Regions from separate parts of the Homo sapiens genome. Here regions 2, 3, 4, 5, 6 and 7 are each linked to region 1. Evidence: fine-mapped expression QTL. A gene starts in region 1. Each other region holds a variant in brackets. All regions are shown on one strand. Distances are between the middles of the regions.

The links. PIP is the estimated chance that this variant, and not a neighbour inherited with it, causes the effect.
Region 2: its variant is the best candidate, but not a certain one, in a credible set for the expression of PTPRJ in whole blood (INTERVAL, PIP 0.64).
Region 3: its variant is the best candidate, but not a certain one, in a credible set for the expression of PTPRJ in whole blood (TOPMed, PIP 0.62).
Region 4: its variant is the best candidate, but not a certain one, in a credible set for the expression of PTPRJ in tibial nerve (GTEx, PIP 0.82).
Region 5: its variant is the best candidate, but not a certain one, in a credible set for the expression of PTPRJ in whole blood (INTERVAL, PIP 0.74).
Region 6: its variant is the best candidate, but not a certain one, in a credible set for the expression of PTPRJ in whole blood (TOPMed, PIP 0.62).
Region 7: its variant is the best candidate, but not a certain one, in a credible set for the expression of PTPRJ in whole blood (TOPMed, PIP 0.83).

Annotation. Positions count from the first base shown.
Region 1 is chr11:47,977,997-47,982,233 of GRCh38, forward strand. PTPRJ (protein tyrosine phosphatase receptor type J) reads left to right here and starts at 2,563. Exons shown (of 25, transcript NM_002843.4): 1 at 2,563-3,012. The coding sequence starts at 2,917. RefSeq lists silencers at 2,474-3,063, 3,164-3,593.
Region 2 is chr11:48,218,314-48,222,550 of GRCh38, forward strand. No RefSeq gene overlaps it. Among named protein-coding and RNA genes, the nearest start is that of OR4B1, 3.6 kb to the left of the region's middle. The variant CA/C (reference allele first, on the strand shown) is at 1,671.
Region 3 is chr11:48,236,823-48,241,059 of GRCh38, forward strand. No RefSeq gene overlaps it. Among named protein-coding and RNA genes, the nearest start is that of OR4X2, 6.2 kb to the right of the region's middle. The variant G/T (reference allele first, on the strand shown) is at 2,027.
Region 4 is chr11:48,074,172-48,078,408 of GRCh38, forward strand. All of the region lies in intron 1 of PTPRJ (protein tyrosine phosphatase receptor type J), which reads left to right. Among named protein-coding and RNA genes, the nearest start is that of MIR3161, 20 kb to the right of the region's middle. The variant C/G (reference allele first, on the strand shown) is at 2,453.
Region 5 is chr11:47,714,004-47,718,240 of GRCh38, forward strand. AGBL2 (AGBL carboxypeptidase 2) reads right to left here and starts at 1,366. Exons shown (of 19, transcript NM_024783.4): 1 at 1,172-1,366; 2 at 615-747; 3 at 281-344. The coding sequence starts at 647. It overlaps FNBP4 (formin binding protein 4), which reads right to left. Exons shown (of 17, transcript NM_015308.5): 17 at 2,491-3,509. The coding sequence ends at 3,419. RefSeq lists an enhancer at 1,044-1,103. The variant A/AG (reference allele first, on the strand shown) is at 1,628.
Region 6 is chr11:48,018,712-48,022,948 of GRCh38, forward strand. The region is part of intron 1 of PTPRJ (protein tyrosine phosphatase receptor type J); the gene reads left to right. Among named protein-coding and RNA genes, the nearest start is that of PTPRJ, 40 kb to the left of the region's middle. RefSeq lists a silencer at 665-714 and an enhancer at 1,795-1,854. The variant G/A (reference allele first, on the strand shown) is at 1,640.
Region 7 is chr11:48,004,583-48,008,819 of GRCh38, forward strand. The region is part of intron 1 of PTPRJ (protein tyrosine phosphatase receptor type J); the gene reads left to right. Among named protein-coding and RNA genes, the nearest start is that of PTPRJ, 26 kb to the left of the region's middle. RefSeq lists an enhancer at 2,114-2,258 and a cis regulatory region at 2,177-2,194. The variant G/A (reference allele first, on the strand shown) is at 1,702.

The sequences.
Region 1 (4,237 bases):
TTCAGGGTTAGTAGGGTCTGTAGGGTCTGTGAGGATCCGAGGCAGCCTGCAGACCTACTATCATCTTCTTTTTCTTTTTTATAATTGGCAATCATCCTTGGCTACCCAGTAGCATCTTTTTTTTTTTTTTTTGAGATAGAGTTTCACTCTTGTTGCCCAGGCTGGAGTGCCATGGCGCGATCTCTGCTCACTGCAACCTCTGCCTCCTGGGTTCAAACGATTCCCCTGCCTCAGCCTCCCGAGTAGCTGGGATTACAGGCATGCGCCACTACACCCAGCTCATTTTGTATTTTTAGTAGAGACAGGGTTTTTCCATGTTGGTCAGGTGGTCTTGAACTCCCGACCTCAGGTGATCCGCCCACCTTAGCCTCCCAAAGTGCTGGGATTATAGGCGTGAGCCACTGTGCCCAGCCCCCTGGTAGCATCTTAAATCAAGCTTTCCTTCCCTCTGGGTATCATGGACATGAACACCTTTTATGTCTCTGCCTCAAGAGGGGAGGAGGCACAGAGGAACAAAAATCCTTGTGAATTATGATAATTACATAGTGTTTAAATGAAGGGTGGCAAGGTGTGTAAGTCCATAGGTAAGGTTTCTTTTTTCTTTTTCTTTTCTTTTTTTTGAGATGGAGTCTCACTCTGTCACCCAGGCTGGAGTGCAGTGGTGCAATCTTGGCTCACTGCAACCTCCGTCTCCCGGGTTCAAGCGATTCTCCTGCCCTCAGCCTCTGGAGTAGCTGAGATTACAGGCACGCCATCACGCCCAGCTAACTTTTGTATTTTTAGTAGAGATGGGTTTTCACCATGTTGGCCAAGCTGGTCTCGCACTCCTGACCTCAAGTGATCTGCCTGCCCCGGCCTCCTGAAGTGCTGGGGTTACAGGTGTGGTGTGAGCCACCACGCCCAGCCTCTTCTTTTTTTTTTTTTTTTTTTTGAGACAGGTTTTCACGTTATTCCCCAGGTTGGAGTGCAGTGTTGCCATCTTGGTTTACTGCAGCCTAGGTTCAAGCCATCCTTGTATCGGCCTCCCAGGTAGCTTAGTCTACAGCTGTGTGCCACCACACCCGGCTAATTTTTGTAGAAACTGGGTTTCACCCCGTTGCCCAGGCTGGTTTCGAACTCTTGAGCTTAAGTGATCTAGTCACCTTGGCCTCCGGAAGTGCTGGGATTACAGGCGTGAGCCATCGTGCGGCCTGGCAAAGTTTCTTTATCCTCAGTGCTTGTCTGGGTGTGTTGTCTGGTGGGAACCACTTAGACCCTGTAAGTGAATGTGTATTCCCATCTTGTAGATGGTAACCTGAGGCCCAACGGGTGTCTGGAGGTAGTGTTGGACACCTCGTGGTCTGCATCTTGCTGCACACAGAATCCAGCCTAGACTCATTATCCTGGCCTTTGAAGTCTCCCCCAGTATGAATCCCCCAGCCTCCCATTCCTGTTTCTCCGAAGGCCAAGCTCGAAGCATCTGCTGCCTCGTTTCTGCCAAGTTGGCCCCACCTCCTGAGACACTTCTCCCCTCTACTGGCCTGGTGAAACTCAACACATCCTTCAAAGCCCAGCTCAGGTGTCACCTCTCTCCTGGTTGGAATTAACCTCTTCCTCCTTAGCACTCTCTGGTTTGGCCCTTTCTCTTGCGGCTTCTCCTGGGCAAGTGGCATAGCCTCCCTGATCCTAGTGTCTTCCTCTGTGCATGGGCACAGGAGTAATATCTGCTGTGATCTTTAACTCCTGTCAGTTCATTGACCTCTTTAACAACGTGATGAAAGCTTCCAGAAGAGCTAATGTATGTGGAGTCCCACGATGTGTCAGGCTAGGTGTTTAGGACTTTACTAACTACTGTCTCGTTTAATCGCGAATGCAGTGGACCTCTCTCTCCACACGTCCTAGTACGATCTTTATTTCACACGGGAGGAGAGGAGGGTGGGTGGGGTCGGCCAGAGAGGAGAAATGCGTCTCCAGAGTTCACAGGGCTGGTACTACCAGCAGAGCCCCGTCCACCATATGCCACAGCTGGGGTTCTAATCCCTGGACTGGCTTGTACTGGGCTCTCTGCCTCCCTGGCCGGCGCTCGGGGGCTGGGGGACAGAACACAATGTACAGCGTGCCTTCTACAATTTCGGGGTTCACGCACCCCCAAGCCCACCCAGGGCCAGGTCAAACGCGCCTTCGCCGGGTTGCTGTCTACAATCAGGCTTGGCTGCGCTCTCAGTAGGGGTCTCGGTCAACCTCTGCCCACCCGAACCCGGCGCCGTGGACCTGGTGTGAGGCTGGGGAGCCCGTCCTGAGGGGTGCCGGCTCGAGGCGCTAGAGCCACGGAGCCTGGTCCCGGGCTCCAAGTCCCAGGAATGTGGGAGGGCTGGGCGGAGGGGCGGGCGAGGCGGGAGCGCTTCCTCTGCCCGCGGGAGGGGATCCGCGGCCGGCTCGGAGGGGGCGGGGGCAGCGGCGGGCGGCGGCGAGGGGCTGCGGAGCTCCGCAGCCGCCGGGCCGGCCGGGGCGGGAGGAAGCGATGAATATTCAGAGGGGGAGGGGAAGGGAGGGGGCCGAGCGCTCGCCGCGGCTCCCTGCAGCAGCCCCAGCCGCATGACGCGCGGAGGAGGCAGCGGGAGCAGCCGCGGGAGCCGGGACCGGGTAGCCGCGCGCTGGGGGTGGGCGCCGCTCGCTCCGCCCCGCGAAGCCCCTGCGCGCTCAGGGACGCGGCCCCCCCGCGGCAGCCGCGCTAGGCTCCGGCGTGTGGCCGCGGCCGCCGCCGCCGCTGCCATGTCTCCGGGGAAGCCCGGGGCGGGCGGAGCGGGGACGAGGCGGACCGGCTGGCGGAGGAGGAGGCGAAGGAGACGGCAGGAGGCGGCGACGACGGTGCCCGGGCTCGGGCGCACGGCGGGGCCCGATTCGCGCGTCCGGGGCACGTTCCAGGGCGCGCGGGGCATGAAGCCGGCGGCGCGGGAGGCGCGGCTGCCTCCGCGCTCGCCCGGGCTGCGCTGGGCGCTGCCGCTGCTGCTGCTGCTGCTGCGCCTGGGCCAGGTAAGCGCCGGGTGGGCTCGGGCGGGGGGCAGGAGGCTGGGGCGGGACTGGCATTGACTGCACCTGCCCGAGCGTACCCCCCCGGGGGGTTCCGGGGAAGGGGGCGGGGGTCCGGATCCCCGGATCCCCGGAAGGCGACTTGCGGGGACCCCGGCCGGCCTCGCACGCCGGCGATCGATCCCTTTTCCGGCTGCCCAGGATCGGGGGAGAGAGGCGGGATCCGGGTGCCGCGGTGCCCGAGCCTCCCGGGGAAAGCCTCCGCGCGGGCTCCAGGCCGTCCCTGGCCCGGCTCTTCCCGGCGCTGGGCACATCTGGCGGGCACGGGCCCGGCTTCCTAGCCGGAGGCGGCCGGAGGGGGCGTGTTTGCGGAGGTCTGGGGACGCAGAGCCGGGCGGCCTGGCTGAGCCTTTGCCGACAGACCTCCGACCCGGCCTGCAGGGGCCCGAGGGGCGGCGGGGGCGACAGGGCAGGGCCAGGCGCTGGGCAGTGGGGCCCTGGGCGAGGCGCGGGACTCCGGGCCGAGGGCCCTGTTCCTGGGGAAAGTTCCCAGGCCGGGGAAAAGGTGGCCGCACGCTGGCTTTTCTCAAGGCAGCCGGCCCTCTTGGCGTCGTGCTTGATTTCATGGGTGTTTAATTCGTGCTTTGTGGGCGCTGGCTCCCCCTCCCCACCCCACCCTCACCCTCTTTTCTGGCTTCACTTTTCAGATAATGCTGTCCCTGGCGTTTTGGTGACCGACCTTTCCCCTTCCTGGCATTTCCATAGGGGCTGAGGCAGAGCAGCTGAAGGGGCATTCCCATTTCACAGATGGGGAACTGAGGGAGAGAAGTGAAATAGCGGAGCACCCAGCCCGTGCCATGGGAGCTGAGCCAGCGGGCACGTCCTCTTAGCCTCTGGAGCCTGTTGGGGTTTGAACCCGCAGGGGAAGCGGTCTAGGGCTGCCTTGCTGTGCGTTTCTGCAAATGACCATCTTGCTTGTTTTATACAGACACCATCTCTGAGGAAATGAGTTATTGGCTGGGGATGGAACCTGGTTTCAGGGAAAACTTCTCCAGCGCGAATACAGGAGAGAGCAGAAGCATCACCCTGGGGCAGCAATGCCGCCTAGCAGGCTGTAGGAGAAGGGGGCTGGGGCCTGGGGGCTGCGTGACCCTCGGCACCCAAGGGTCTCTCCTCGCAGTTTCCCCAGCAGGTTCTGCACAGGCTCTCCTGGGGGCCAGAAGGCAAT
Region 2 (4,237 bases), 240 kb after region 1:
AATTACATCCAGGGACTTTTCTTTTCTTCTGGTTGGCTCCTGGTATCTTGTACCATGGACCATCTGACCATAAGCCCCAGAAAAGTCCCTGGAGCATTTTTAGTTCTTGTGATATGTTTTCACAAGAGATGGTCCTTAAATCTGTCTGGTCTTTCTCACAATGTCCAACATTTGTAAAAAAATAATATCAAAATGACATAGATTCTACTTATCACTATGGAAAGATCAAGTCAAATATTTTCACAAATACAGTGTTTCACAAAAACATTGTTAGTCTTATCCAGATGTGAAAAATACAAAATGTTAGAAAATGCTTATTAGGCCTAACTTAAAGAATGAAGGGGAGAGTGATACTGTCCAAGCATACTTCTACTCCAGACCCTGTCCCTTGTTCTAAGTGACCATGCAAGGCCATTTCTTTTAATGCCTATTAGTATTTCTTGGTGAAGGGAGATGAGATCGTCTGTGTCTGCACTTTTGGTTAACTTCTCAGCATCTCTGCCTTACCCCATTGTTTCATATAATTGTACATAATTTATAGAATATCATAAAGTTGTTCCCTGTTGGCTTTAAAATTGCACATATTGGCATTGAATTTGCACAACATCCTCTGCTTTTTCTTGAGAATCAGGTGAAATAATTCATGCAGCTTCCCTAGCAGAGGGATGGAGTATCATGGGTGTGCTATATATCTTAGGGCTTTTTCCTTTCTATTATAGGTGCTGGTTGAACACGTAGGTAAATAGTGGTTTTAAAGGCACCAGCAAACTTCTCACTTCCCTTAGTGTTCCCATTAACCCTGTCCATAGACGACCATCATTAATCCCTGAGAAAATGTTGCTGCTTCTGCTTGGAATGACTTTACTTCCCTTTTCTGTATGGCAAAATCCTATACATTCTTCAAGACCTAGGTTCAAGTCATCTTCCTTATAAGACCTTCTCTGACTTCCCTCCTCTTTGGGTTGAATTTATGTCTCCTTTCTGCAGTCATTTTTACATATTATTGCCCTATCACTTCAATTCTGATTATTTGATGTGTTTGTCTCTCAATAGACTGTAAGCTCTCAAGGGCAGGACTGTCCACTGTCCCTTCTTCTTTGCAGCTCTAAATATCATGCACATAGTTGATACTTCTTAAGTGCATGTGGAATAACCAACCCTTTAGGCTCATGCACAATCCTTGCTATATTAATTCTTATAGGTTCCTTTTGAACACTTTCATGGTGAGGAGCACATCTTCCTGTTGAAATTTTAAGAGCTCAGGCTCTGACATTTGTTAGGCTGTTCCAATTGCCTGTGAGCCACAACCCAGGATCCAAAGTACTTAACTTCCCTGAACAACTGTTTATGCATGAGTATAATGACTAACAATACTATGAAGTTTATAAGATTATTCTGGCTGGGTGTGGTGGCTCACGCCTGTAATCACAGTGCTTTGGGAGGCTGAGGCAGGTGGATCACTTGAGGTCAGGAGTTTGAGACCAGCCTGGACAACATGGAGAAACGCTGTCTGTACTAAAAATTAGCCAGGTATGGTGGCACGTACGTGTAATCCCAGCTACTCGGGAGGCTACGGCAAGAGAATCACTTGAACCTGGGAAGCGGAGGTTGCAGTGAGCCAACATAGCACCACTGCACTCCAGCTTGGGTAACAGAGTGAGACTTAGCCT[CA/C]AAAAAAAAAAAAAAAAAGAAAGAAAGAAAAAAAAGGGATTATTCTGAATATTAAATCAGATAATATACCTGCAAAGCTTTTAGAACAGAACATGGTCATCAATAAATATTAGCCATCATCATCTTCATCATTAGAACTGATTATTAATTTTATTTTGTGTGATGACTGCATCTCACAATGATCATTCTGTCCTGTAGAGCTACTCAGAATAGGCCTTGATTCCACCCCAAAAGTGTTCAAGCATTCTAAGGCAGTTCAATAGACCTTCTCTGTCGCATGCCACGTTGCTTCTCTGAACGTAAACATTCTCTGTTAGGCCATCTACCTGGTGCATCATAGGTACTCACTTAGTATTTGTTAAATAGATGTTGACTGTAAAATAGCTTCCCTATAATCTTTTATGCTAATGCTTTTATATCTTGTTAATGTATATTTTAAAGCATTTGCTCCAGAATGAAACACAGTGAAGGCACCCTTCCTTTCTCTTGATATCTTGCTTGTATTAAAGCAGGCTAGGACTTTAGGTTGCAGGTTGTGGTAGGAGTCCCTTACTCATGGGCAGGTTTGGTTTCCTCTCTGAGAACTATGGATAGAACACCATCAGTGAACTCTGAGTGGTTGGATACTGCACAGGCAGATAATATCTATTCTAATTGAATGGTCAAAATTCTTAAGGATCATGTCACCTACTCTCAACCCTCAAGAGAGTTGAGACTTAGGTCTGTTGAGAGCTGATTACTCACTTTGTTCTGGCCTTGCTGCAAGAAGCACATAAGTTAAAGGAAAACATTTTTTCATTGTTTTAAGAGACAGAGAATGTCATAAAATTTTAAAAATGTCTTCTCAATGAACAGAAGTAGTAATAATCTAATTATACCACTTAGCACTAGAGAGCATGTAGTTAGCTCTTGGTTGTTGATTTTATCACAACATTAAAAATGTATTTTTAAGAGAATCAATATAACATGCTTTCTTTAAAGAAAAACTAGTAGAGTGCTGTAAACTACTCAGATACATAATTTTGTATCCTTTGTCCATTAATTATTTGTATTCATTTAGGTATAGGTTTGACTGCATATAACAGGGAAAAAAGCAACTTTTAATGAGATAGAGTTAAAAAAGTTCAGAGGTTGAAAGTCCAGCTCTGATGGAGATATTCTATATCTGTGCAGTTCAATATGGCAATGCTTCTGAGCATTATGGTATAGGGAAAAAATATCGTAGTGTCTGTTGAGCACTTGAAATATGGCTAGTGAGACCCAGGAAGTGAATTTTAAATGTATTTACTTTAAATAAGTTAAGCCTCAATAGCCACATGTGGATGACATATTGGACAACACAACTCTAGCTTTGCATTTCTATTCCAGGGGACAGAAGCAGAGAAAGGAGGCGGAAAAACTGATCACTTTCCCTTTAGATTTTCCAAAAGTGCCATATAGCACTTTTGCTTTCATCTTGATAACGATTAGTAGCATGGTGAAACCTAATTTCAAAGGGGGCAGGGAACTATAATTTTTGTTTTGTTTGTTTTTTTTTGAGACAAAGTTTCACTCTGTCACCCAGGTGGAGTACAGTGGTGCCATCTTGGCTCACTGCAAACTCTCCCTCCTGGGTTCAAGCGATTCTCGTGCCTTAGCCTCCTGAGTAGATGGGACGACAAATGTGTGCCACCACGTCTGGCTAATTTTTGTATTTTTAGTAGAGACAGGGTTTCACTATGTTGGCCAGGCTGGTCTCGAACTCCTGGCCTCAGGTGATCCATCCCTGTCAGCCTCCCAAAATGTTAGAATTACAGGCTTGAGCCACCACACCCTGCCAACTATAATCTCTTATAGTGTGTGGAGTTGTGTGCAGTGAAAACTCAGGGTTCTGTTCTGTTCCTAAAGAGGAAGAGAATAGGTGTAAGGATTGGCGTATAGTCTCAGGCACTTTACACAATTTCCGTGTAATTAAAATTTTTTCATAAATGTGGTTTGCAATATCACAGAGTCTCATTGTTGCCTAATTCACTTAATTATTCACTCATTTCAGGGCTTTTAAGGTCATTTAATAATTTACTCAACAAGACTCACTGAGCATATATTACATGCCAGGTGTTGTTCTAGAGATGTGGTGGTACGTAGGCCAGAGACCTTTCCTGCCTTCATGGAGATTGCATTCTAGATAGACATTCTGTTTTCTGAAGCTGCTGTGGTCTGGATCAGCATTGCCAATAGAACTTTCCATGATAATGGAAGTGTTCTTATCGTGTGAATACACGCTAGTCCCTAGCCATGTGGCTACTGAGCCCTTGAAATATTTCTAATACGACTAAAAAATGAAATTTTAAATTTTAGTTAATTTAATTTTAATTAACTAAAATGTAGATTTAAATAGTCACACATGACCAGTGGCTACCAAACTGGGCAGCAAAAGTCTAGAGCCTTCAGTGTTTACTTCTGCTTCAAACTTGTACCTCTTAATCAGGGTCAGCAGCAAGACTGCCCTCGTCCCTGGCACAGTGAAGGCTCTGTGGCTTTAATTTCAGGCTTTCACTAGCCAGCTCTTCTAACTCATCCTCACATG
Region 3 (4,237 bases), 260 kb after region 1:
ATATGTATCCTTGGGTTCTGGTTCTGGCCAATTCATTACAGATAAATTTGCCAAATAACAATTTGTTAATTTAACTGAATTACCACATAACTAATTTACTGAACTTTTGATTCCTCAAAACCTATTTCTGTTAATCCTTTGTAAAATCTATAGCACTTATGTTTTGCAGATGCCTGCAATAAGCGATGTATTTGGGGGAGGAGGATTTTTGTGTATTCTCAATTTCAGTTTTCTGGTAATTAATGAATATCAAGGATTTTATATAAGTTTGTTTCACTCTTCCAGTGAATTTTCAATCTAGTCAACTGTCTTTCTTATTTTTCTTCATTCTTGAATTGACTTTTCTCAAGAAAGGGACCCATGTATACGTAACAGATGAGGAATTTTACCTGGATATGTTTTCACGTGTGCTAACCAAACTTACCTGAATCAGATTGAATGATCCGCCCCAGTTCTTTACTTCTTCTTTTGCCTGTGCCCTGCTCCTTGTAATTTTGCAGTTCTTCCCATCAGAAGGAGTGTATGTTTCCATCCCCTGACTTTAGGCTTAGCCATGTGACTAGCTTTGGCTAATGGCATGGGTGGGTGGAAATGACAATGCCTCAGTGAGAGCCTAGGCCTTACTAGGCCTTGTGTATTTTTGTTTGCCCCCCTGTGTCTCTGCCACGATCATGAGATGATAGGCAGCAGCTGCACTACAGCCTGAACTGCCAAATGAACACATACGGAACAGAACTTCTCTAGCCGACCCACCAAACTGCAGCCTGAGGAAGAGCTTCCCCAGCTCACCTGCAGACCCATGAACATGAGAATAAATGCTTCCAGTTGCATGCTGCTGAGGTTCTGTGGTTGTTAATGTTACACAAACTCTTTAGACTTGACCTGACAAATATGCATATCAAAGGAGAATAGAAAAGTCAACGTACTGGACTAAAAGTGGTTAATATTTATTAGACCTGGTACACTTACCTCATAGTTCTTTACAATGATTTTGCTGAGCATGGGCATTGAACATGTCCTTTCTGCTACCTTGAGGGCTTTGCCCTTGATTTAACTGTCTGGAAATTGTGTTTGCAAATTTCTGCCAAGTTGGCATAACTCAATTGCTTTTCTTTAAGTTCAATGGATTTGTTGATCCAGACGTGTTGAATGCTGACTTTGTGAATGTTTTACAATCCAGATTCCTTAGAGCTTCTTAATTAAGAGGAAAAGGATTAGCTGAGATTGGAAGTAGAAGCACATCTTTCGTGAATTGATAATTCAGTGGACTGGCCATTTGCCTGATAGCAAAATTGCTGAATTGGTTAATCTTGTGAATTGACTGTTGGTAATTTGACCATCTGGCAAACTATAGTTGGTGAATTGATTTTAGGTGAATTGCTGCTTTTGCACTTCGTGTGATGAGTGACAGGTGGTGGATGCTCAAGAGCTGTGGAAGGAATAAAATATATCAAAATGATGTCGGCATTATTAGTTTTTATCATTTGGGAAGGGCTTGAGCCAGAAGTGAGATTGCTTGAAGCAGCCAGAAAAGAACTTATTTGAGAGCTCGAAATAGTGTTCATATATTGTCTTGCAACAAAAAATACCAACTGTCCAAACTAATACATGAAATCCATATTTGAACTTATTAATTGATATACCCTATATTTGCATAATACCCTATGCATATTTCAAAGCCCTTTCACATTCATTACTTCATTGGCGTCTCATTGTAATCCTGTGATGTCAATGAAATATGAATTAATCATTCTCAATGTACAGTTTTAGATGAAACATCATTTAGATTAGGTTTTAGCTGCAAGGATCAGAATCTAAACCAAGATAGAAGTCAAGAAGTTCACAGTCTGGGATAGAAATGTTCTCTATCTTGTTTCTCCATCCTTTATAGTATTAATTCCCAAGGTCACTGCATGGCCCCAAATGGCTGATGGAGCTCCAGTCATAATGGCAGCATCCTGTTATCCAAAAGCAGGAAGAGATGAAATAAGACATGTCCCCTTCCTTGAAGTTTCAAGGGAGGCTG[G/T]GTAATGTAATTTTCATTCCAGGTAGGCATGTGCCCTCATAAAAATTCAGGGATTCTAATACTATAGAAGGAAGAAGGAGAAAATAATAATTAGGAACACTAGTGATTTCTGCTCCAGGGTAAATCAAGCACAAAGCGTGGGCACAAACTCAGATATTCTGATTCCCAGACCAGAAGTTTCCTTCATTGTGGTTTCCCATCTCAGTTAGGTTTTACTTTATGAAAATAATTTTGTTTAGTTTTTACTTTAAAAAAAGTCGACAGATAAAATTGTATTTATCATGTATGACACATTTTGATACACACACACACACACACACACACACACTCATTGTGGAATAACAAAATCTAGCCAATTCACTTGCATTACTTCACAAAGTTATTGTTTTTGTCGTGATAACATTTAAAATATATTCTCAGTAATTGAAGTAAAATTTACATTCAGCAAAATGTACAGACCTTAAGTGTACAATCTAATGAGTTTTGACAAATTTATACTTCTGTGAACCAACTTCCCAACAAGATGCAGAATATTTCTATCACTCTGGAAACTTCTCTTGTGACTTCTTCCAGGCAATCTCCTCCCCTCCTCAGGCAGCTACTGATCTAATTTCTATCATCATGAATTAGTTTAACCTGTCCTAAGCTTGTTTAAATGAAAGCATGTACTCTTTTTGTATCTGGCTTCTTTCACTTAACATAATATTTTTGGGATTCATCCATATTGTGGGTTATGATTATTTTTATTTAGTGAGTAGCATTCCAAAATCATGTGTATATGTAAATATACATATACGTGTGTGTGTGTGTGTGTGTATACACATTTTTTTTTCTTGTGGTGGTGGATATTGGGTTGATTTCTTTTTTCTTTTTTTTGCTGTTATGAATAGAAGCTGCTAGAAACTTTTACATTCCCATTTTTTTCTACTTTTATTTTAGGTTCTGGGGGTACGTGTTGGGGCTTGTTACATAGGTAAATTGCGTGTCACTGAGGCTTGGTATACGAATGATCCCATCACCAAGGTGGTGAGCACAGTGCCCAATAGGTAGCCTTCCAACCAACACCCCCACCCACCCTCCCCCCTCAAGTAGTCCCTAGTATCTATTGTGCTCATCTTTGTGTCCAACCGTTTTCAATGTTTAGCTCCCACTTACAATTGAGAACATGTGGTATTTGGTTTTCTGTTCCTGTGTTATTTCACTTCTGATAACAGCCTCCAGCTGCATCCATGTGGCTGCAAAGGACAGGGTTTCACTACTTTTTTATGGCTGTATAGTATTCCATGGTGTATATGTGCCACAGTTTCTTTATCCAGTCTACCACTGATTGGCATTTTGATTGATTCCATGTCTTTGCTATTGTGAATAGCTCTGTGATGAACATACAAGTACATGTGTCTTTTTGGTAAAAAGCTTTATTTTCCTTTGGGTATATACCCAATAGTGGGATTGCTGGGTTGACTGATAGTTTTAAGTTCTTTGAGAAATCTCCAAACTGCTTTCCACAGTGGCTGAACTAATTTACATCCCCACCAACAGTATATAATTGTTCTCTTTTTTTCTGTAACCTTGCCAGCATCTTTTTATTTGACTTTTTAGTAATAGCCATTTGACTAGTATGAGATAGTATCTCATTGTGGTTTTGATTTGCATTTCTGTAATGATTAGTGATGGTGAGCATTTTTTCATGTATTTGTTGGAGACATCTATGTCTTCTTTCAAGAAGTGTCTGTTCATGTCCTTTGCCTGTTTTTAAACACATTTCCACTTTTTTAAAAAAGCACATACTGATATTTCATTTTTCACTGCAAAATAAATTTTCACGTGGAGGAATGCGTATAGATATAATTTTAAAAGAAGGATCTGTGTATTTTTTTTTTTTTTTTGAGACAGAGTCTTGCTCTGTCAGCCAGGCTGGAGTGCAGTGGCATGATCTTGGCTCACTGCAACCTTCACCCTGCCAGGCTCAAGCAATTCTCCTGCCTCAGCCTCCCAAGTAGCTGGGATTCCAGGTGTGTGCCACCATGCCTGGCTAATTTTTGTATTTTTAGTAGAGACGGGGTTTCACCATGTTGGCCGGGCCAGTCTTGAACTCCTGACCTCAGGTAATCCACCCGCCTCGGCCTCCCAAAGTGCTGGGATTACAGGGTTGAGCCACCGCGCCCGGCCAGATCTGTGCATTCTTTCTAATAACAGGATTTAATTATAACT
Region 4 (4,237 bases), 96 kb after region 1:
GTTTCACCACGTTGCTCAGGCTGTAATTTTTAAAAACTAAAAAAAGAAAAAAAAGTGTTTACAGGACTTTAAATTGAGAAACTTAAATATCTTTACATATTCTGTGTTCCTAATTTATTTTTGCAGCAGTAATTATTTCAGCTGTCTTTAGTATTGACATGTTGGAACCTCGGATTAATTTGTGCATGGATATATTTAGAGCCTTTTACTTGACAAGAATCATGTATATCATGACTGAATTTGTAATTTCCCAGCATGAGACCCAAATTAATAGACAGTATTTAGATTCTAGGCAACGATGCATTATATAAACCAGCATCATTTAGGGAGTGGCAAAGACTCTCTCCCCACCAGTTCTGTGAACTTGGGCAAGGTGTGTAATCTTTCTGAGCCTTAATCTAATTAGACCCTTTCTCCTGTAACCCAGAGGGGGTGTTAGTAAAGTTGGTGTGAAAAAAGTCAATTATTGTACTGATGCAATTTGGGTGAAACTGTGAAGTTCAGTGTTCACATGATGGTTGTGGAGACACTGAACCTTAATCCTTAGGCCAGGGATTCAAAGTTTTTTTTGACTCTCATGTTGAACGTTGTCTAAAGTGCAGTGTGCCCTAGTTTTTAGGTAATTCTGAGAATTCTAAGGCCCTTGCTGGAATAATTAATGAGAATATGAGATTTCAGCAAATTAGGGCCAGGAGTCAGTGCTCTCAGCATGGAAGAATCTCACCTCCAAAAATTTTATGTGGGTTTTACACATTAAGCAAGCATAGGTGAGGTGCAGTGAAGGGGAAGTGATGGCTGTCAGTCGTTTGGCCAGGTTCCTTTGCATACAGGGGAGCTAGTGGGTGTATACCAGCTGAGACAGCTGAAGGAGGAGAACATGAAGAATAGTTGGAAACTATTGAACCTCCAAGATTTTTCTGTCTTTGTTAACAACTAGCAGTTACATGCTAGCATTATTTATTTATTTAGTTAGTTAGTTAGTTAGTTCTTGAGATGGAGTCTCACTCTGTCACCCACGCTGGAGTGCAGTGGCATGATCTCAGCTCACTACAACCTCTGCCTCCTGGGTTCAGGTGATTTTCCTGCTTCAGCCTCCTGAGTAGCTGGGATTACAGGGGCCCGCTACCACGCCCAGCTAATTTTTGTATTTTGAGCATGTTGGCCAGGCTGGTCTTGAACTCCTGACCTTGTGATCCCCCTGCCTCGGCCTCCCAAAGTGCTGGGATTACAGGTGTGAGCCACTGTGCCTGGCCTTATTTATTTATTTTTGAGACAGGGTCTCACTCTATCACCCAGGCTGGAGTGCAGTGGTGCAGTCATAGCTCACTGCAGCTTGGAACTCTTGGGCTGAAGTGATTCTTCTTCCTTAGCCTCCCCAGTAGCTAGGACTATAGTGCCACCATGCCTGGCTAATTTAAATTTTTTTTGTGTGTGTGTGTGTGGTGGAGATGGGTTCTCACTGTGTTGCTCAGGCTGGTCTTGAACTCTTGGGCTTAAGCGATCTTCCCATCTTGGCCTCCCAGAGTGCTGCGATTACAGGCGTGGGCCACCACACCTGTCCTGTGCTAGGCTCTTAACGTCCTTCCCAGATGTTATGTCCCTTCCCTTGGTGGCTGCTGCTTTCTGCCACATTTTACCTTGCCTTTCCGCACCTTCTACCATGTCTCCTTTTCCAGCCTCATTCCCTGAGATGTAGCCGGAGTTCCAGTTCAGCCAACCTGCCCGTTGTTTTCTCTCCTGGAACTGGGTGTTTGAGCCTCCTGCATGGAGTGTTCTTCCTTCCCAGCTAAAGTCCTGGTCATCCCATTTCCATCTGAAAGGCCCCCTTGTTCATGAAGCCTCTCATGGTCCTTCCCCCTACCCCAGCCAGGTATACTTTCTCTCCTCTTGGAATTACCCTATAGGAAGAACATGGTGGCTTGACCTGGGTTCCAGTCTCACCCATCTGTTTACCTGGGGAGTGATCTTGAGTGGGTCAATTTATGTTCTCAGTGCCTTACAAAATGGGGCAGAGGATACCTAACCCCCAGGAGCTGGTGTGGCTGGGGTACCTTACACAGGGCCTGACTGTAGTAGCTTCTCTCCAAGCATTGGTGTCTTACCTCTTCTGTTTCTCTAATGGTGTTTTGCACATTCATTGTTGTATTAGAGTTTGTTTTTTTGTCTTACCTTGTTTTAATAAATTATAATCTTATGGGAGATGACACTGTCTTTTCTTTGTTTCATATATAAAAAGTGTTTTGCTGATATACGTAGAATCAAGTTGGTCTGGAGTTACTCTGGATAAGGGATGAAATCAGGGAGCTCTTGTGTTCAAAGGGGCCTTCTTCCCTTTTTTGGTTCTTTCTCCTCATTTTTTAGCTTCCATTTTTACTTCCTTTAGTATTGAGAAAGTACCAGGCTCACTTCAAAGAGTTGACTTCAAAGCTCCCACCAGCTCAGACATACTTGC[C/G]ACTGAAGCCTGTAGGAATTGGCATCAATGGAAGACCCTGTGGCGGTTGCATTTAAGATTTTTTTTGGGACTTCTATTTTTATAATTCTTTTAAATGGTAAAGGGGGAGGGTTACAAAATATCTGCGCCTTTAAGATATCAAACATAAGCCAGTGAAGTTCCAAAAAAAAAAAAAAAGATGTCTTAGAGAAATGAAAAGGATTTTACAATTGGTAGAAAAGAACAACTCTTTTTTCTTTTTCTTTTTCTTTTTTTGTTTTTGAGATGGAGTTTCGCTCTTGTTGTACAGGCTGGAGTGCAATGGCGCCATCTCAGCTCACTGCAACCTCCACCTCCCCAGTTCAAGTGATTCTCCTGCCTCAGCCTCCCGAGTAGCTGGGATTACAGGCACGGGCCACTATGCCCGGCTAATTTTGTATTTTAGTAGAGACGGGGTTTCTCCATGTTGGTCAGGCTGGTCTTGAACTCCCGACCTCAGGTGATCCACCTGGCTTGGCCTCCCAAAGTGGTAGGATTATAGGCATGAACCACTGTGCCTGGCCAAGTCTTTTTTCTTTAAAAAAAAAAAGGTTACTTTTACTGTTTTGTCCTAGTTACAAGATCTTAGGACAGAAATAAAGCCTTAACTTGTATGTAACATTTTCCAAGATGGCTAAGTGGAGTTGCAGGTTACATAGCAGAAAACAGAGGCTTGGGCCTGTTGAGACCTCACACCCAGTTCTTCTTGGAGCTGTGGGTGTGGGCTGAAAGAGAAGACAGGGAGATTAAAGACCAGTGATTTCCCTCCATGGACCCTTTGATGCTCTTGTTTGTTGACTTTTTGAGGCTTGGAGTGACCGACTCTTCCAGGAATGAGAAATGGAATCCCTCCCAGTTTTGATGGTCGTCCCAGGACATATTTCCTGAAGGCCTACTCTGTGTCTCAGCACCATTCCAGGACTCCCCCCGACAGCCTTACGGAGCGTGCTACAGTCTTCCTGATCCAATATCCTGCCACCTGCCCACTCATTCACCCTCGGCCCTACCCCATGCCTTTGCACGAATCTTTCCAGCCTGAGCAGCCTGAGATGGGTCTTTTTCCCTGCTCCGAAATCCTGACCTCATAATGGCTCATGAATCCCTATTCAACCTTCAAGACCTGGTTCAAGGGTTAAATCCTTTAAGGAGACTTCTCCTGATTTTTCCCCAGCTGGTTGCTTTGTTCTCCAGCGATTTGTAACCTTGTGAACAAATATTCTACTCATTTTATTCTACTGGAATGATCTATTTACACTTATCTCCCTGCAAATTGTATCCTGCCCTTCAATGGCTAAGTGAATGGCATAAACAGATGCTATAGGAATTGAGACTAAGTTGGAGCTGGGTGATCAGGGAAGGTTTTAAGGAAGAGATCTGGGACAAATAGCTAAAGATGGATTCAGTGTTTTTTTTTTCTTTTTCTTTTTTTTTTTTTGAGGCGGAGTCTTGCTCTGTTTCCCAGGCTGGAGTGCAATGGTGCGATCTTGGCTCACTGCAACCTCTGCCGCCCAGATTCAAGCAATTTTCCTGCCTCAGCCTCCCAGGTAGCTGGGATGACAGGAGCCCACCACCACGCTTGGCTAATTTTGTGTTTTTAGTAGAGACAGGTTTTCACCATGTTGGCCAGGCTGGTCTTGAACTCCTGACCTCAGGTGATCCACCCACCATGGCCTCCCAAAGGGCTGAGATTACAGGCATGAGCCACCGTGCCCGGCCTGATGGATTCAGTTTATGTGCAAAATTTAAGAGGATGGGTTTCGGCAGTTC
Region 5 (4,237 bases), 260 kb before region 1:
TAATTAAGAGACAGTGATACTGGTAAAGGATAGCCAAACAGACCAATGGAATAGAGAGCCCAGAAACAGACCTTTGTATTAAGTGATGCTGTCTACTTGACAGAGGTGACCCGCAGATCAATGGGGAAAGGAAGTACTTTTCACTAATGGTAGAGGAAAAAGTATTTATTTGTCAATGCAAATTATTTATTAGTCTACCCAAGTGCAACCCTCCCAGCTAACGAAGCAATTTTCCTCTTGAGTCCAGGAAAGGTGATACTAGATAAGAACATGGTATTACCTTTAAAGTAGCCATAATATTGGAGGTGACGGTACATAAAGTCTTCATAAGGATCAGGAATAGTCTGTGAAAGGAAAGGCCACTTCAATCAAGATAATGTTTTCAAACCATAATAGACTCAACAAAAAGTACATGAGCGTTGTTGCATAGGACTAGACTAAACCAAGCGAGCTGCATTCCATGCGAATTATTCTATCGTGGGGATCAAGATCTCCAGCTGAGAAAAGATGCCACCAGAACATCCCTTCTCATCTAGTAGCAGATTTCTGTGGAGTTCCCGAAGAAATGGAGTTCCCCGAAGAAATTTCTGTGGCTTTCCGTGTTGTGTACCGACCTGCTTTAGGTGCGTTTCCAAAGCTGGGAACATGTTACTTCTGGATGGTAGGCTGAAAACTAGTCAGTGACATTAGCATCCAGTCGCAAACCCTGCCCAATTTCCAAATAGGCAGCTGATTACACAAGAGAAGCTACAAAGCCACAAGAGGACAAGTGAAAAAACTGCCAATACCTCCCCGGGCGCCCCCCAGCTCCCTCTTGACTTCAGAAAACCCTGCCAACCCAGCTTCTCCTCAGCTAAACAAGGTGGTCACGCCGAGGCCAGAGGTGCATCTGAGACAGGGAGGGCAGCGTATCTTCCCGCTTCTTCTTCCCAAGGTGCTGGCCCCATGCTTCCCTTTCCCTGAGAAAGGAGATGCTCGCCACAGGAAAGTGAAAGAAATGGGTATGGGAGCACGCGACGAAGTCGTCTCGGTAGGTGCCGATGGAAAAAGGTCAGGGGGTTGGGAAAGTGGGCCCTAAAGATTGAATTTAGGGTTCAGAGGAACCTGGTCTGGGGCAGGTGGTGAGGGGGTTTCCTAAGGGTAGGAGCGGGGAAGGAGAGCAGAAACTTCCCAGGAGGGCAGAGCGATGGATGCGACCGCCTTCGCGCCCCGGCCCGTCCCAAGCAGCACGGATGGCTGCGGCAGAGAAGCTCCAGCGAGGCAGGCGGCCACCGCACTTAAGTACAGAGGCCAAGCAGTGTGCGGGCAAGGGGACAAACTCGCTGCACCCGCCCGCCACCGCCTTCTGTGAGGGCCCGGGTAGTCTAGCAACCGAAAGCAGGAAGCGGAGAAAGGGCGGGGCGGTCGGGCGCTTCCGGGGAGCTAGGCCTCGCCCCCAAGGAGGGAGCGGGGACCCCGGGAAGGTCTGCAACATGTATGGCGGGCAGCGGCTTTCTTCCCCTCATACATCACAGCCCCAGCCTCGGAATCGAAACCGCATTGATGAGTACGATGCCAGTAGCCTTCAACATACTTCCAAGCTGGTTTGCTGTTGGCTTTAGATAACTGTTATGCATAATTTGCTCTA[A/AG]GAGAGCTGCTGCTTCTCTCCTTTCACCTTAACATTCTCTCCACTGCACAGCTAGAAAGGAAAAATTACCTTCTACACTGCAAATCTTAAGAAACAGAGCTAACAAATTCAAATCACACATTTTGATTAGGTTTAAAAAAATCAATTATATGCATAGAAATTTACTCCAGGCCAGGCGCGGTGGCTCTCGCCTGTAATCCCAGAACTTTGGGAGGTCGAGAGTTGGAGACTAGCCTGACCAACATGGAAAAACCCCATCTCTACTAAAAATACAAAATTAGCTGGGTGTGGTGGCGCATGCCTGTAATCCCAGCTACTCGGGAGGCTGAGGCAGGAGAATCACTTGAACCTGGGAGGCGGAGGTTGCGGTGAGCCGAGATCGTGCCATTGCACTCCAGCCTGAGCAACAAGAGCGAAATTCTGTCTCCAGAAAAAAAAAAAACAAAAAACCAACAACAAAAAAATAAATATACTACAATAAAATTCAAACACGTGTCTTTGGTTAACTATATATGAATATAACCGTATCTGTTACTTTTATCAGTGGGGGGAAAAAAGCTATAAAGCACCTTTTTTTCTGAAATGTTAACCATATTACATCATTGCCAGGAATTAAGTAGGTAAAATATTATCTAATATGGCTATTAACCAATCTAGATATTATAGATAATATTAGACCCCAAAACTTTGATCACACAGCACCATCTGGGACTAGAAGCCTGTTTGTCTAAACTGGCCCCACCACTCCCCATTAAAGATCTCCTGCTCATTTTCTTGAAAGCTGTTGTTAAATGTTTGCACCTTGCATTGTATATGCTTAGAAAAAAAAACAAGTCCTGGTTACATAATCAGAATAACAGGAGTTGACGAGCAAAAGGATAACCCATCAGGATTATAAAAAAAGCTTTATTAGTGCATATATACAAATTTACAAGGTCAGAAACTGGAGAAATACAAAGAGCTTTAAAACACAATTTGCCGTTTCCTCAGTTTAAAGTGACTTTTACCTGATTGTGATACAACAGAAAGTACAGAACAGTAAACTGCTTTTTAAATACTGGAATTTTATGGAGAATACATTCACATAAAGAAAGGAGGTGAATTTTGTTTTGGAACAGGGTTAAGACAATGGAGACATTAATACATAGAGTGTCTTGTTGTATTTACTGCCACATACTTGAGGGGAAATTCTCAAAATCAAGGATATGAACACCTGCTGCTGCCTGTATGCCACCTAGTGTGCGAAACGACCGAGCTACCAGTTCTAGAACTTATGAGAACTACTCTAAAGAGTGTGGCCATCTATCAGCACGAGGTAAACCACTTAGACCTCAGCACTTCAGGGGTGGCCGACTAGAGAAAAGAGGCCAGAAAAAGCTTCAGACAATTCCAGTCAAGCAAGGTAGAATGCAGAGCTGCCTTCTGAATTGCACTTGTTCTGGAGGAGAAGTTAATTCTTCACTTTTGTCAGGGAGTCCTCTACAGAAGTGTTATACTCATGAGCCACATGTTCTTCAAGACTGATGAGGTTAATACACCTAACATGCTAAGTTTGCCAGTTTGAGAATAAAGGCAGCATGGTCAAAGCAATTCCAATCACCTCATCCCTTTGCAAAAACAGAAAAATTACATTTCACAAAAGTGAAAACTTTGTATGCATACACTCTTGCCCAGGAAATTTATAAGATCTCCCCCATAACATTTATAGTTTATTTGACAATAAAACTGGTTAAGACTTTGAACTGAACACAAAACAAACAATAATACAAAAAAGTTTTAAAAACTTAAAAACTATGTGTTTGGAGCCATTTTCCTTCTCTTCAGCCTTGCTCTCCAATCCTCAGGAAGGGCTTCAAAATTAGCATTTCTCTCTGCCATGCCACTGTGAAAACAACATACAGATTATTTTAGTGGAAAGAAAAATTAACAAAAGTATTCATTTCCCAGCAAATAAAAATCTAACTGAAATTAAAAACCTGATCTATCACGTCTATGTTTATGAAAATCTTTTGTTTCTCAGCCAAACATCAGTATATTCTTCATCAAACTTCTTCATTCTGATAGGTCAACCAAACACTACCCCAGTTTTACGTATATGTCTAAGTGCATATTTATTTATTTATTATTGACTGATTGAGACGGAATTTTGCTCTTGTTGCCCAGTCTGGAGTGCAATGGTGCGATCTCGGCTCACCGCAACCTCCGCCTCCCAGGTTCAAGCGATTCTCCTGCCTCAGCCTCCCCTCAGAGTAGCTGGGATTACAGGCATGTGCAACCATGCCTGGCTAATTTTTTTTTTTTTTAAGTAGCGACAGGGTTTCTCCATGTTGGTCAGGCTGGTCTCGAACTCCCAACCTCAGGTGATCTGACTGCCTTGGCCTCCCAAAGTGCTGGGATTACAGGTGTGAGCCACCGTGCCCGGCCTTATTTATTTTATATAAATATACCTCCAATAACCATTAAAGGCACACTGAAGAAATGAAACACGTTCTATTAGAGTTTTTCTTAGCCCACAGGAGTTATGATTCTTCAGGGCAGATATATCTAATCCTCAGTCTACCAACAGGGACCCTGGGATCTAATGTTTTTTTTTCTGTTTTTGAGATGGAG
Region 6 (4,237 bases), 41 kb after region 1:
ACTGGGGGTGCGGAATGTGGCACTCCCTTTAGTTAGACTTGATGAGCTTTGGATTTGAGTAAGTGACAGCCCCTTTTATTTCCTGCTTTGTTCTCTCCCAGGTACCAGTTGACCACAGTTTTCATTCATGCAAATGGAAGCTGACAGCTGCCCAGGGAGGGTTAGATACCTGGGAGGATAGAGCAGAGGCCCTCCTTCTCCCCGACCCCTCGCCTCTGCAGGCTGGTGGGGAGGGGGGCAGGGGAGTCGAGTTACCCTCTCTCCACGCTTTCTTCTTGTGTATGTGTGCGTGTACGTGCGTGTGTGTGTTGTGTGTGTGTGTCTTGGGGGATGGAGAACCCCTCTCAGGAGGGCCTGTGGAAAGGCTGGGGTAAGTGGAGTGAGCCCGTGGGTCCTGCCCTTCCAGGCTGCCAAGAGTTTAAGTTGCTGCCTCCCGGTCTCTGTGCCCTTTTCCTGCCTGTGGAAGGCCCTCTCTCTGTTTAGGAACGTGGATGTGGCAGGGGCTGGGCGGGCACTTGGCCTTTATAACAACAGAAGAGGATTTTCAGTGACGAGGAAGCATCCCGCCCTTCTGGTTCCCTGTCTTCCACCTGGCCCCACTGCGACAGCCTCTCCAGGCCTCTGACTTCACTAGAATCTGCCCCTCCACCCCACCTTCCCCCGAACCCCACCTCCTTTCTCTGAGCCTGAGAGGAGTTAATTGTGTTAGAGTGCACTGAGAAACCTCCAGGAAGGGGCCCTAGTCCCTGTGTTGCCTGTTCAGCAATCACATTTGCTCACGTCTAGAAAGTACAATATAATGACTCAGGTTAAGGGGTGAAAAAATGTGGTGGACATTTTGCCAGGGTACTGTGTTAACTGTTCCAAGGTATCACCCTGTGTGAGACTCAGGAACATTCAGTGTTTTGGTTTCCCCCCTATTGTACTGAATGCCGGCAGCTTTCCCCTTCTAATTATTTATCTTAATAATTTGAGGAAAGTTGATTTGCTTTTTAAAAACTGGCATCCAAGCGTACCCTATCGCACTGCACACAGCTGAGAGATTAAGGCAGTTCTTTAGAATTCCTAGTCCGTGTTGTGTACACAGCGATAGGCTGGGGTAGTGGTTCTGGGTGCAACTGGGGACAGGCGAGGAACCATAAATTTGGCAGGAAAGATTTGTGTTGGTACCCTGTTATATTTGCTTTGCATCACATATTGTTTAAAAAGAGCGATATTTTCGTTAAAGGAAAAGGAACTGTGTATTTGAGATAAGAAGTAGAATAAAATGAAATGAATAGTTGGGTTTCGTCCTGTGGCCTTCAAAATGGCGTTATTTCTGAGATCCCTGTTTCTATGCTGTTCCAGTATTTATACGGAACTTATAAAATACAAAGTATAGGCATGTCCCGAGATCCTGGCGAGGCTGTAATTTATAGTGTTGTTCTTTTTCTTTTGTTTTACAGAGCTGAGTTTGGTGAAACTTCAGGAGGTTTTAGCTAGTGGCGATCCAAAGACATTAAATATTGCTTTGTGGGTACGTCTCCACCTTGCGTCTTACTTGGTGACTGTTCAGTGGTAGGCAAATGTCAGAACCCAGTATGCAAATGTGGAAGTGGACAGATTTGAGTCAGTTATCTCAGCTGGTGTTATGAAATAC[G/A]GAAATTTTTGGCGTTGGTGGTGGAGGGCGTTGGCATAGGAGGCGTGAATGCTCTTTGTTTCTTGCTGTTATGGGAGTATCTCTTGATTGCCCCATCATCTTGTTTGGTGTGGCCCCGTTTCCTTCTAGAAGTTGAGTTCCCTGGGCTTGTGAGAACCCTTGTACATCTGCCTCCATTAAACTCACATTTGGAGATCTCGTAAATGAACGCAGTGCAGTCCGGGGGCAGAGTGAAGGCTCAGACTGCAGCCGGACATGGCTCAGTTACCCTAGGTGGGTTAGCAGCTGAGCAGGTACTGGTCTCAAAACCCTCTGAAGCGAAGCTGCCTGTCGATTCCACAGTTGCCAGCTTCCAGCATGGAGCTTCTGGAAGTATCACGGACTGAGTTGGGTCCCAATGCTGGATGTCCCTACTCTTCCTCCTGCCCCTCCCACGTTTGGATGGGCAAATGCACTAAGAACAGCCCGTGGGCAAGTGAATGAAACCAAAAAGCAGCAAGGGATTTGGACAGTCCACCTCAGAGTATCTGACTTTATTTTGAGGGGCATGTGTCAGAGTTGGGTGAAGAAAGAGATTCTCAGATGGAGATAGAGAAAGATCCCCAAAAGGGCAGGCTGGCTACCAGTGATTTATTTTTATTTTTCTTACTTTTTTAAGAGAATGCAGGGCATTTTACTCTTCTGTGGTAGGAGAGTAGACTGGCCACAGCCCAGCCCAGAACCCTTAACAAAAGGTTAAGCTGCTGGGCATGGTGGCTCACGCCTGTAATCTCAGCACTTTGGGAGGCAGAGATGGGTGGATCACCTGAGGTCAGGAGTTTGAGACCAGCCTGTCCAACATGGTGAAACCCTGTCTCTACTAAAAATACAAAAATTAGCCGGGCGTGTTGGCATGTGCCTGTAATCCCAGCTACTGGGGAGGCTGAGGCAGGAGAATCGCTTGAACCCAGGAGGCGGAGGTTGCAGTGAGCCAAGATCACGCCATTGCACTCCAGCCTGGGCGGCAAGAGCAAGACTCCGTCCCTAAAATAAATAAATAAATAAATAAATAAATAAATAAATAAATAAATAAAATAAAATAAAATAAATAAAAAAAGAGGTTAAGGTTTATACGCAGGCCATTTCTAATAGATGTTATGGAAGCCCCAGGTTTTGGGGCATCAGGGTTGGAAAGGAAGCCAAAAATGGGTGTGTCCAAAGGACAGATGCATTGAGAATGGGTTGTAAAATTTCAGCCATTGTGTAGATTAACCAGCACGGCACCCTGCCCCTCAGCCATTGTGTAGATTAAGGAGCACTGCACCCTGCCCCTCCTCCCCCAAGCATGCAGCACCTGAGAAAGAAATCTGACAAAGATGCTTTAATATGAGTCTAGCGCTTTGAGCCTTTCATTGTCATCTCCAGTGCAATTGTCTGTGGGTTTTGTTTTGTTTTGTTTTGTTTTTTCATTTTTATTGGACTTTGCTTTGCCTTTTAAGGGAAACTCTGGATGATATACTTCATTATTTCACTTGTCAGATGGTTAGTAATATGGTATTGCCATTCCTGACCTAAGGCAGCAAGTGATTCCTTCTGGCAAACTCTTTAAGAAACATGGGCATGGAGCCTGGCTGCCTGAGTTCAAACCCCTGCTCTGCTGCTTACCAGTTGGGTGACCTTGGTCAAGTTACTTAATCTCCGTGCCTCAATTTCCTACTCTGTAAAATGGAGATAATAATAGAACCTGTGTCATTACATTATTGTGGGAATTAAATGTGTTAGTCTACGAAGAGGGGTGCCTCAGGCCCATGGTAAATTTTATGTAAGTGTTGGTTGTATATAAGATGATGAAGTCCGGGCGCGGTGGCTCATGCCTGTAAATCCTAGCACTTTGGGAGGCCGAGGCAGGCAGATCACCTGAGGTCAGGAGTTCGAGACCAGCCTGGCCAACATGGAGAAACCCCGTCTCTACTAAAAATACAAAATTAGCCAGGCCTGGTGGTGCATGCCTGTAATCCCAGTTACTCAGGAGGCTGAGGCAGGAGAATCGCTTGAACCTGGGAGGCAGAGGTTGCAGCGAGCCGAGATCGTGCCATTGCATTCCAGCCTGAGTAACACGAGCAAAACTCCATCTCAAGAAAAAAAAAAAAAATTAAGATGATGAAGATGCAGCGTGGGGCCATGAGAAGAGTCCTGGTCTGGTGAGTTTGGAAACCTGGCTTCTGGCCTGTTTCTAACACTGTATGTCCTTGGGCCAGACCCTTTCCCCTGGGGTGCTGATTTCACACCTGTAAAATGAAGAAGTTTGACTTGCACAGTGCTTTTCTTAGACTGTGGTAAGGGGTGGATGTGGGGGTAGTGCCAAGACCAAGTGAAAGAGGCTTCTGGACCTCCATCCTTGCTTCAGCCAGAGCAGCGTGGGTTCATTTCATTTTTGGATTTTGGTTTGTGGGAAGAAAGGGTTCTCTTGCCGGTGTGTGTGTTTCTGATAAACAAAGAAGTGTGGAAGTGGCTGAATGAGATGACCCAAGGACTCTTTCTGGGAAGATGCAGGAGGAAGTAGGTGAGCTGAGGGGAAGCTGGTGGGGATAGGCCTGGTGGGGCCTGGGGAGAAGGATT
Region 7 (4,237 bases), 27 kb after region 1:
AGCCAGGACTTGAGACAAGAATCAGGCCAAGTGAGTAACTGTTGCTGCTGTGGCAGTGAATGTTAGCAGCCCAGGCCTGCAGGGGGGAAGACTCATTTGGGGTACAGTGAGAGGTCTTGCTGGGCAAATGCAGGGTGTTTGCGGCAAGGTAGGCTGGGGCTGGACTTGGAGGATGCCTGCGTGATTTAGATTCTATCTTGTAGAGAATGAGGTATCATGGAAGGATTTTCTTTTCATGTTGTAAATATTAATCATTTTATTGTTTTGTATTTTTGATGGCAATATAAAAATACCAGCTTTGTTGAGATATAATTTACATACAGTAAAATTCATCCATTTAGAAAGTATACAGTTCAAAGCTGGGCGCAGTGGCTCATGCCTGTAATCTCAGCACTTTGGGAGGCTGAGGTGGGTGGATCACTTGAGGTCAGGAGTTCAAGATCAGCATGGCCAACATGATGAAACCCCGTCTCTACTAAAAATACAAAAATTAGCCAGGCATGGTGGTGGGTGCCTCTAATCCCACCTGCTTGCGAGGCTGAGGCTGGAGAATCACTTGAACCTGGGAGGTGGAGGTTGCAGTGAGCAGAGATCATGCCACTGCACTCCAGCCTGGACGACAGAGTGAGACTCTATCTTAAAAAAAAAAAAAGCATACAGTTCAGTTGTTTTTAGTATATTCAGAATTGTGCAACCATCACTGCTGTCTAGTTCCAGAATATTTTCGTTACTCACAAAAGAAACCCCATGCCCACGAGTGCTCACTCCTGATTTCTCCCTCCCCCACCTCCTGGCAACCACCAATTTGCTTTCTGTTTCTGTGAATTTACCTGTTCTATGTATTTCATGTGAGTAGAATCATACACTGTGTGTCCTTTTGATTCTGGCTATTTCGCCTAGCATAGTGTTTTCAAGGTCCATCCATGTTGGAGCAGGTATCACTGCTTTGTTCTTTTTTTATGGCTGAATGATATTTCATCACAGAGAGATACCATGTTTTGTTTATCCTTTTATGAGCTGATGGTCGTTTGGGTCATTTCTACTTTTTGGCTATTGTGAGTGACACTGCTATGAACGTTTGTCTACCAGTGTTTGTGTGGCCACGGGTTTTCAATGTGGGAGGATTTTGAACTGGGGAGTGGTGTTTGGAGCCTTTGGGTGGGGTGGGCTGTGAGGAGCCTGTGTGTGTGTCTGCCCTTACTGGGCTGGGTTTAGGGCAAGCTTCATGTGCTTCCTTTCTTTTAAGGGACTCTCTGAGACAGGGTTATTATCCCCTTTTTGCAGATGAGGGCACTCAGGCTCAGTGAGGTTAAATAAGCTGCATGGCTAGACAATGGCAGATAGCAGCCCTGTCCGGCTCTTAGCCAGCTTGCAGCCACCTGCCCCTGCTGGGCCAGGCGATTGCAGTGGTCTTGGCTGGGAGGGGCCCAGAGGCTGTGTGGTGCTGGAGAGAGGCAGCAGGCTGGACCTGGTTGGGCAAGGCTGAGTGGTTGTGGGATAAGAGGAGATGTTTCAGAGCAGCACCCACAGAACCGCTGTGATGGGAGAAACAAGACTTCGAGTTAGGAGAGTGGGTTGGACTCTTGGTGCAGCCTATGTGACCTTGGGCTGATCTTGTCTCTTTTGAGCATCACTTTCCTCATCTGGAACCTGGGGCTCTTGTGGCTTCCTGCCTCTCTCAAGGGTGATTCGGGAGGAAGA[G/A]TGGGAGAGAGAGAGAGAGAGGGAGAGGATGGAGGCGAGAGAGGTGGAGTGGGAAAGGAGGGCAGAATCTGCTAGAACCTGCAGAGCTCATAATCTAGGGGCGGGGAGGGACATGCAGCAGGTGCAGGCAGGTGTGGGAGGAAGTAGCCTGGTCATCTGGATGGACATCCCTGCCCATTCAGAGAAGCTCTGAACCCTGCAAAAGCTCCCACGTGGAGGCCAGTGAGCTGGTTATAATCCAGAGACTGTCAGTTTTTCCTAGTACATATTTGGACCTGAGCCTTTGTTTCTGCAAAGAGTCTGGTACTGACTCACACAGTGTCAGCAGCCCCCTTCCATCCCCTGGCACACCCCTCCCTCATTCCTACTGAGCATTACCTTAAAACCAGTGAGGTCTTTCTGGGTCTTAAAGGTCACCCAGTGTCCTTGCCTATCTGGGCCTGTCTCTGTTCAAGTGGCAAGGCGGACCATCCCCTTTATCACTGACTTGCAGCTTGCCTGGGTTTTGTAAAAAGCTTGTCATTGCCAGTTAGAAAATAAAGACAGAAACCTCCCCTTTGGCATTGGTATCGTGATGACTTGCTCTTGTTCTGACTCTATTTTGCTGGCTTGTTATGAGTCAGTCATTTTTTTTTAATGAAATGAATACCTTTGTCTTAATATGAAGCTAGGCATATATGATAAAGGTTAGATGATTTTTCAAATATGAAATCAGAATTCTACCCATACTCCCAAATTAGAGAGCAGTCTGATGTGTTCCCCTTTACTGTGACCAGTGGCTTCATAGGGGACCTAGTTATGAGTCCTGTTTCTTTTTTTTTTCTTTTTTTATTTTGAGACTGAGTCTCGCTTTGTCTCCCAGGCTGGAGTGCAGTGGCGCAATCTCTGCTCACTGCAAGCTCCGCCTCCCGGGTTCACGCCATTCTCCTGCCTCAGCCTCCCGAGTAGCTGGGACTACAGGTGCCTGCCACCACGCCCGGCTAATTTTTTGTATTTTTTTTTTTTTTAGTAGAGATGGGTTTTCACCATGTTAGCCAGGTTGGTCTCGATCTCCTGACGTCGTGATCCGCCCACCTCGGCCTCCCAAAGTGCTGGGATTACAGGCATGAGCCACCACACGGGGCCAGGCCTTTTTCTTTTCTTTTTTTTTTCCTCACTGTGTCACCCAGACTGTAGTGCAGTGGCACAATCTTGGTGCAACCTCCGTCTCCCAGGTTCAAGCGATTCTTGTGCCTCAGCCTCCTGAGTAGCTGGGATTACAAGCATGTGCCACCACACCTGGCTAATTTTTCTATTTTTAGCAGAGATGGGGTTTTGCCATGCTGGCCAGGGTGATCTTGAACTCCAGACCTCAAGTGATCTGCCCGCCTCCCAGAATGCTGGGATTACAGGTGTGAGCCACTGCACCCGGCTGAGGCCTTTTTCTTCTGTGCGTTCCTGCTGTCTTCCCTCCAGGCAGCAGCAAGCTGGTAGGAGCTGTACTTGTGAGTTGACATCATGATGTACAGTCACTGGTCACTTATAAAACTGGGCAGGCCCAGAGCAGGAAGGGTCATTGAGGGTCATCTAATGCAAACCGTTTACTTTAGAGATGTTGAAACCAAGGCGCAGAGAGGGGAAGTGACTTGCCCAAGACCACACAGCTAATATCACTGTGAGCCCAGGTTCCTGGCTCCAGTTCCTGGTTCTTTCTGCCCCCTTCTTCCCGACACTAAAGATACAGTGGTGAGCACACAGGGTATTCAGTAACGTATCTATTTTTGACCTGTTTTTAATGGAGGCTGAATTGGGCTTTTAGGGTTGAGTTCTGACACGTGCCAGGTGATCTGCTGGAGGGAAATCTGTTACTTCTGGGGAAGAGTTGAAGGTGTCTTCTGAACTCTGGAATCTGTTTTGAGGGGAGGCTGAGCCCATGCGTGGACCCTTAGGCTGAGCCCATGCCTGCTTCAGATGTTCCACACCTTTCACCACAATTTATTTATTTATTTATTTTTTGAGACGGAGTCTCGCTCTGTGGCCCAGGCTGGAGTGCAGTGGCGTGATCTTGGCTCACTGCAACCTCCGCCTCCTGGGTTTAAGCAATTCTCTGCCTCATCCTCCCGAGTAGCAGGGATTACAGGCATGTGCCACCACGCCCAGCTAATTTTTGTATTTTTAGTAGAGACGGGGTTTCACCATCTTGGCCAGGCTGGTCTTGAACTTCTGACCTCGTGATCCAACTGCCTCGGCCTCCCAAAGTGCTGGGATTACAGGCGTGAGCCACCATGCCTGGCCTATTTATTTATTTTTTATTTTTTTGAGTTGAAGTTTTGCTCTTGTTGCCCAGGCTGGAGTGCAATGGTGTGGTCTTGGCTCACTGCAACCTCCGCCTCCCAGGTTCAAGCGATTCTCCTGCCTCAGTCTCCCAAGTAGCTGAGATTACAGGCATGCGCCACCACGCCCGGCTAATTTTTGTATTTTTCATAGAGGTGGGGTTTCACCATGTTGGCCAGGCTGATCTAGAACTCCTGATCTCAGGTGATCCACCCACCTCAGC